Linked DNA regions of Homo sapiens. The protein of the gene in region 2 interacts with the protein of the main gene of each other region in a pairwise test. Each region holds a gene or a part of one and is shown on either strand. Other genes may lie near its edges.

Region 1 (4,270 bases), on a different chromosome or scaffold from region 2:
CAGCTCCAGCCGGGTGCGGTGGCTCATGCCTATAATCCCAGCACTTCGGGAGGCCGAGGTGGGCAGATCACCTGAGGTCAGGAGGTCGATACCAGCCTGACCAACATGGAGAAACCCCATCTCTACTAAAAATACAAAATTAGCCGGGCATGGTGGTGCATGCCTGTAATCCCAGCTACTCGGAAGGCTGAGGCAGGAGAATCACTTGAACCCAGGAGGCGGAGGTTGTGGTGAGCCGAGATTGCGCCACTGCACTCCAGCCTGGGCAACAAGAGCAAAACTCCGTCTCAAAAAAAAAAAAAAAAGAAAAAAAAGAAAAATTACCTGGGCCTGGGCTGGGTGCTGTGGCTCACGCATTAATTCCAGCACTTTGGGAGGCCAAGGCGGGCGGATTGCCTGAGCTCAGGAGCTCGAGACCAGCCTGGGCAACACAGTGAAACCCCATCTCTACTAAAATACAAAAAAAAAAAAAAAAATTAGCTGGGCGTGTGGGCGTGCACCCATAGTCCCAGCTACTCGGAAGGCTGAGGCAGGAGAATTGCTTGAACCTGGGAGGCAGAGGTTGCATGAGCTGAGATCACGCCACTGCACTCTAGCCCGGGAGACAGAGTCTCACTCTGTCTCCAAAAAAAAAAAAGGAAAGAAAAAAAACTTTGCTGGATGTGGAGGCGTTCACTTGTAGCTAGGACTTGTAGCGTTCACTTGTAGCTAGGACTCTAGCTACTAGGGAGTACGAGGCAGAACAACTGGTTGAACCCGGGAGGCGGAGGTTCCACTGAGCCGAGATCACGTCACTGCACTCCAGCCTGGGTGACAGAGCGAGACTCCATCTCAAAAACAACAACAACAAAAATAAAAATAAAAAATAAAAATACAAAATTAGCTGGGCGTGGTGGCTAGCGCCTGTAATCCCAGCTACTTGGGAGGCTGAGACAGGACAATTGCTTGAGCCCAGGAGGTGGAGGTTGCAGTGAGCCGAGATCGCACCACTGCACTCCAGCCTGGGTGACAGAGCGAGACTCCATCTCAATAAGTAAATAAATAAATAAATAAATAAATAAAAATTGCAACTCCCCCCCACCAACAACCTCTCCCCTCCACACTTTCTGACTCTCTTGCTTTATCTTTCTTGGATGCATTTATCTCTATTTGATCCACTTTCTACTTATTGACTTCTTGCTGTTTCCCTCACCACAGTGTAAACTTCAGGAGGACAGATGTGTTAGCTGTTGTGACTTCAGCACCTAGAGCAGTGCCTGGCACATAGCAGGTGCTCGATAAACCTTTGCAGGCTCAATCAGTGTCAGGAGGATGCACAGAAGAAGGCGGCTGCTCCCATCGCGCCCCCCTGCGCTCAGGCCTGGACGGAGAGGGTGGACAGGGCTCCATTCCACCCAGCTCACCCTGAAACTCAGGGCTCTGCCACTCTCCTGCACTGGCCGGGCTCCTTAAAGGCCAAACCTCATTTTCCACACCAGTCCCTGCCATTTACAGAGCAGGAAACTGAGGCTTGGGGAGGGGAGATGTCTGGGACAAAAGAATAAGGAGCGCTTAGGGGGCAGAATCTAACCCAGATTTTGCTGCCCTCAAAGGTCCTCTTTTTTATTGTTGTTGTTGTTTTTTAGACGGAGTCTCACTTTGTCGCCCTGACTGGAGGGCAGTGGTGCAATTTTGGCTCACTGCAACCTCCACCTCCCAGGTTCAAGCGATTCTCCTGCCTCAGCCTCCCGAGTAGCTGGGATTACAGGTGCCCACCACCACGCCTGCCTAATTTTGTATTTTTAGTAGAGACGGGATTTCACCATGTTGGCCAGGCTGTTCTCGAACTCCTGACCTCAAGTGATCGGCCTGCCTTGGCCTCCCAAAGTGCTGGGATTACAGGCATGAGCCACCACGCCCGGTCTCAAAGGTCCTCTTTAGGCCTCAATTTTAACTTAATTTCTTTTTCCCAAGGATAGAAGGTAGAATTTCATTTCTCACAAAGAAATGAAGTTCAGTCCACGCCATTTCTCTGACCCCTGTCGATACCCCCGCGTCTCTCTCCTAAGCCCCACCTCTGGACACGCCCCAACCGAATGTCTCTCTTACCCCAGACGGGCCTGGCTTTCCTCTGGGGTGAGTTGGTCGAATTCCTTGGCCACTTCCCGTCCCAGGAAAGCCTCATGGTCGTACTGGAAGTTCCCGTGGGCGTCATCATGGGGAGCGTCGCTCAGGGGGGCCGCCTGGTGCACCCTCCCCTGGCCATGAGGGCCTGCGTCTGGGGATGGCTTCCCCTGGGCCCCGTGCCTCAGTAGCAACAGAAGCAGCAGAACTGATGGTCGCCACATCATCGGTCCCTGGGGAGTGGCAAAGGCCAGGGGTCAGGGGTCACAGGGATGGGGACAGACACGGGATAGGAGAATGGCGGGGTGGAGGGGTTACCTAGGACAGGACAGGGAGTTGGAAGTTGGCTGCAAGCTTTCGGGCTCAAAAAGGGCGGGCGATGGGGGAAAAGAGGGCGGGATGCTTAGAGGTAAAGCCACCTATGGGGAGGACCGAATCTTCTGACGGAGTCTCAGGGGGGTCCCAGACCTGCCAGGGGGAATTACAGAGACAGACGTGGCGCACATCCCACGCAAGGTGCAGGGCATAGTTGTGGCCAGCGAGAGGTCAGGCAGGCTCCCCGTCATTGCTCCCAGTCCGGACCCTGGTCCTCGACCCGAGCCGCCCTCCCTGGACAGAGGCCCCCCACCCACTCCCTTTACCCTGTTATCCAGCTTCGCTCCGCTCTCCACGCTCCGCTCTGCGTTCCCGCAAATGTGCCCAATTCGGCCGCTCTCCAGTCAGGCCCCGCCTCTGGCAGCGCAGAGCCCCGCCCCCCGCCCAATGAGCTCGCACGAGCGTCTCACGGGGCGGGGCCAATGAGTGCACGGGGTGCCGCGGGCACTCCTCGCCACGTCCACAAAGGAAACCGCGGCCTGCCCGGGGAAGAAGGGTGGGCGACACCGCAGTGACGCGGCCGGGGAGAACTACAACTCCTGGCAGTCGTCGCGGCACTCTGCCGTCCACCTCCAGCTGTTCTAGTCACAACGCCTCACGGGAAATGTATTTTTCCCTTTCCCTTTGTCAGGATGGTTTAAGAAAGAGGTGTACGTTCCAACACTTCTATACCAAACAAAACAAAACAAAACAAAAATAAACAAAAAGAACGAAAGAAAAGAAAAAAGGCCGGGCGCGGTGGCTCACGCCTGTAATCCCAGAACTTTGGGAGGCCGAGGCGGGCGGATCGCCTGAGGTCGGGAGTTCGAGACCAGCCTGATCAACACGGAGAAACCCCATCTCTACTAAACATACAAAATTAGCCGGGTGTGGTGGCGCATGTCTTTAATCCCAGCTACTTTGGGAGGCTGAGGCAGGAGAATTGCTTGAACCTGGGAGGCGGAGGTTGTGGTGAGCCGAGATCGCACCATTGCATTCCAGCCTGGGCAACAAGAGCGAAACTCCGTCTCAAAAAAAAAAAGAAAGAAAAGAAAAGAAAAGAAAAGGGAGAGCAGAATCAAGGGGCCGGAGGAAATATCCCATTTCCTCCAAGAGTGAACACTGCTCCTCGCTCCTCTTCGGCTCCAAGGATTCAGGTGGTCAGACAGTAGCCAAGAATTCCTCAAAATGCCTGGCATGGCAGTCATCCAGTAAATATTTGTAAAAGTTATGAATTAAAAATACATGACCTCAGGTTGAGCACAGTAGCTCAATGCCTGTAATCCCAGAACTTTGGGAAGCTGAGGCAGGTGGATCACCTGAGGTCAGGAGTTCCAGACCAGCCTGACCAACATGGTGAAACCCCGTCTCTACTAAATACAAAAAATTAGCCGGGTGTGGTGGTGCATGCCTGTAATCCCAGCTACTTGGGAGGCAGGAGAATTGCTTGAACCTGGGAGGCGGAGGTTGCAGTGAGCTGAGATCACGCAATTGTACTCCAGTCTGAGCAACAAGAGCAAAACTCTGTCTTAAAAAAAAAAAAAAAAAGTGACCTTAGGCCGGGCGCGGTGGCTCACACTTGTAATCCCACCCCTTTGGGAGGCAGAGGCGGGTGGATCATGAGGTCAGGAGATCGAGACCATCCTGGCTAACATGGTGAAACCCCGTCTGTACTAAAAATACAAAAAATTAGCCAGGCATGGTGGCAGGCGCCTGTAGTCCCAGCTACTCGGGAGCCTGAGGCAGGAGAATGGCGTGAACCCAGGGAGGCGGAGCTTACAGTGAGCCGAGATCGCGCCACAGGACTCCGGAC
Region 2 (3,500 bases):
CCTCCACTAGACTGCAGACTCTCTGTCCTTGGGCTGTGCGCCCCTTGAGCAAGGCTGCTGCTCTCAGTGAACTCCCACACATGCACACCCTCAACCTTGTCCCTGCCCACCTTGGACTCATGGTTGGCAGGTTCCATCCTTCTACCCCTCCCCAAAATACTCCCCCATCACCCCATCACAACTCGAGGAGCATTCCACTGTTCTGTCATTTACTGAGGCCTGCCACTAGCTGGGGTGAGAAGGCAGCTAGGGTCCTGTGTTTTAGCTGCAGAAGTTAGAACTCTGGGAGTTCAAGCACCTTCCCACCAAGATCACAAGACACATGAACTGGGACTGCTTGGCCTGAAGCCCTTGTCCACTGTCATTCCCCTTTTGTCCCCACCACCTCTGAAATGACATCAGCCACCTCCTCCTAGAGGCCTTCCCAGTTACCTCTACCCAGGTGAGGCCATCAGCCCTTCCTGCATCTTGAAACCCTCACAGTCCTGCCACTATTTCACCTAGGGTGGCCCCAGCCCACAGAGAGCATGGTTCCTTCATGGAGGGGTCAGGATCCCCCATATCCCTGTCTCACTTGCATCCCCCTGCACCCTGCAAAGCCACTGTGGGGACTGGACTTGCCTCCTCACGATGGATGCGGGACAGGTAGTTCACAAACAGGTTCTCAGGGCCTGGAGGCTGCCAAGAGGAGAAGCCCCTGGTGAGCAGGCGTCCTCCCCACAACCCGTGGCCCCGGCAGCTGTCCCTTCCATGCTCCCATCCTTACATCGGCATCATCCATGGCGGTGCCAGTGGTGGTGCCGTCCACAGTGGGGCTGGCACTGCTGGCACTGTCGTGGTCCAAAGTGACAATGAGCACCTGGGCAGCCTCCTCCACCAGGGGTTCCCGGTAGTCAGAGAAGAGCAGGTGGTTGTAGGGGATCCCGTAGCCCACAGGGTCATAGGCACACACGGTGTTGAGGAGGGAGGTGAAGAGGGGCAGGGCATGTCTGCAGCAGGAGAGGGACAAGGCTGCAGAGGCTGCACTGGGGCCCAGCCCCCTGGCCACACCTCTCTGGCCACGTGGGAAGGTCAGCCTCATTCAACAAGCATTTTAGCACCACGTCAGGGAGTGGCTTGGAAAGAGTGGGTGTGGGAAGCCCAGAGCCATGATTAGGACACATTCATACCCCTTAGGGTCTTAAGGGGCAGATACCCTCCCTTGGGTCCTCAGAGATGGGAATGGAGGCCTGTGGAGAAGGTGGGCTTCCCCTCAGGGAGCAGAGCCCACGCTCAGCCAACCAGCTCCCAAGCCACAGAATGACTCCACTCAGACTCAAGAGATGTCAGGGTTCAAGCTGCTCAGCTTACAGATGAGGAAGCTGAGACCCAGAGAGGTTAAGTGAGGGACAAAGGGTGGCAGTTTGCCTGATAAGGCTGGTGAGAAAGAAAACTCTGGCCAGCCTCGGACTGTGGCTGGTGGAGGGGGTCGCCTGGCTCCCTTCTCTTCTGGAGTAGGGTGGAAGGTTGAACAGAAGGCTAGGAAACCTGAAGAATAAGGCGTGTCATGTAGGGACCAGAGTCTGGAAGGCGGAGGTCGACCGCCACCTGCCGGGCACAGACCCTATGCAGCCAACACAGCTCCCAGTGGGAGCTACCTGCTCAAATACTCAACTCTGCCACGTGGCACGTGTGACACCCTCCCCCCACCCCGTGCTCACGTGTCCCCCACAGTCCATGAGTGCCCCATGTGGGCTGGGCCTCCCTGCCCTTCGAGGTATTTGTCACACACTCCCCGACCCGGTCTCTAAGCTGCAGAGTCCCACACAGCAGCCTCAAGCCACAAGGAGCTGTCGAGCCCTTGGAATGTGGCTGATCGGAACCAAGACAAATACACACTGGATTTTGAAAACTTAGTATGAAAAGGGGGATGTCAAACAGCTCAGTAATGTTGTATACTGATTCCATGTTAAATGCTAAAGTTTGGGGTATATTGGGTTATATGAAATATATTATTAATTATTGTATTTATTTATTTTTTTTTTTGGAAACAGAGTCTCACTCTGTCACCCAGGCTGGAGCGCAGTGGCGCAATCTCGGCTCACTGCAACCTCCGCCTCCCGGGTTCAAGCGATTCTCGTGCCTCAGCCTCCCGAGTAGCTGGGATTACAGGCACCCGCCACCAAGCCTGGCTAATTTTTGTATTTTTAGTAGAGATACGGTTTCACCATGTTGGCCAGGCTGGTCTGAAACTCCTGACCTCAGGTAATCTGCCCACGTTGGCCTCCCAAAGTGCTGGGATTACAGGTGTGAGCCACCGCGCCTGGCCCAATTTTACTTTTTAACTTTTTTAATTTTAAAATTGCACTCGTGGTTTGCATTCTATTTCTACTGGACAGGCGGCTCTTGATGGAGGACCCAGGGACGGATTACTGAGGGGCCCCCAGATTCTGTCCTGTCGAGGACTCCAAGGAGAGACGGGGCTAGTGTGAGGTGTGGCTGGTAAGTTAAAGTTCATCACCACCAGGGGGCAGCACCTCCCCTCAAACGAGACCCAGAGCTGGCGAATGGACTCAGCTCTGGATTGCCTGGAATAAGAGGGAAGAGAGCGCAGAAAGGCCAAGGGCCCTTCACCTGTTCTCCGTGGAACAAAAGAACTGAACCCATGGGTTGGTGCTGCCACTTTCCGGAGCTGGGGGCAGGTACATGGCCTCGGAGAAGCATGTCAGCAGCAGTTTCAGCAGCTCCATCCTTGTAGGAGGAAGGGGGAGGGCACCTTAGGATCCCAGTCCCCTCTTGGAGGTTCTGCCCACCCAGCCCAGCGCCCCAGCCCAGGTCCATGGAAGGAAGTTACTCCCGTTGACCCCTGTAAGGTCAAGGTCGGGTCATAGGTGAGGACGGTCTTCTGGGAAGACCCCATGGGCTTTCTGAGCTGTGCGGGGGCCCGGCCCGGGGTCCAGCTGCATTGAGGGCTCCGGGCCTGGGCGAAGCTCACCGGTTCATATCGTGGATGTAGTTAGGCTGGGGGGAGTGAGCGAAGCCCACACCAGCCTCCCAGATGTATTCACAGCTGTCCAGGGAGTGGACGTCCTCTGCCGAGTCCTGGGGACAGGCCAGGAAGAAGCCGGGTTAGGGGGTCGAGAGGTGAACAGCAGCCTGGGTCAGAACCTGGCCACCTCGAGCCTCACACAGTCCCAGGGGCAGAGACCGCCAGTTCTCCTAAAGACAGGTCCTCAAAATGGCCTGGCCCTCATGCACAAGAGCAGGAGTGAATATTCTTAGGCCTCTTGAAAGCTCATTTTTCTTCCATCTCAGACTGGTTCTTTCACTTGCTCAGTCCAGTTTGGGACAGGGAGAAAGGGAGGGAGGGGCAGGGGATTGGGTGCCCCGGGTTTGGGGGTGGGCAGAGAAGACTCAAGGTGAAGTCCATGCCACCACAGGAAGCAAGAGGGCCAGCCCTCCTGTGTCTGAGCCCCACACCCCTGGGCAAGCAAAGACAATGGGTGTCTGTGCCCAGCCAT

Evidence for each region. Proteins that work in one complex are often made in the same cells at the same time.
Region 1: the proteins of HID1 (region 2) and RCN3 interact in a two-hybrid assay, tested with the Homo sapiens proteins (one large-scale study listed by BioGRID and IntAct).

Annotation. Positions count from the first base shown.
Region 1 is NC_000019.10:49,526,533-49,530,802, reverse strand, and holds the start of RCN3 (reticulocalbin-3 precursor), read right to left. Parts: upstream 2,801-4,270; 5' UTR 2,745-2,800; exon of another isoform or gene 2,422-2,744; intron 2,337-2,421; 5' UTR 2,331-2,336; coding exon 2,089-2,330; intron 1-2,088. UniProt on the Homo sapiens protein: Probable molecular chaperone assisting protein biosynthesis and transport in the endoplasmic reticulum.
Region 2 is NC_000017.11:74,959,260-74,962,759, forward strand, and holds part of HID1 (protein HID1), read right to left. Parts: intron 3,082-3,500; coding exon 2,975-3,081; intron 2,731-2,974; coding exon 2,614-2,730; intron 990-2,613; coding exon 767-989; intron 679-766; coding exon 622-678; intron 1-621. UniProt on the Homo sapiens protein: May play an important role in the development of cancers in a broad range of tissues.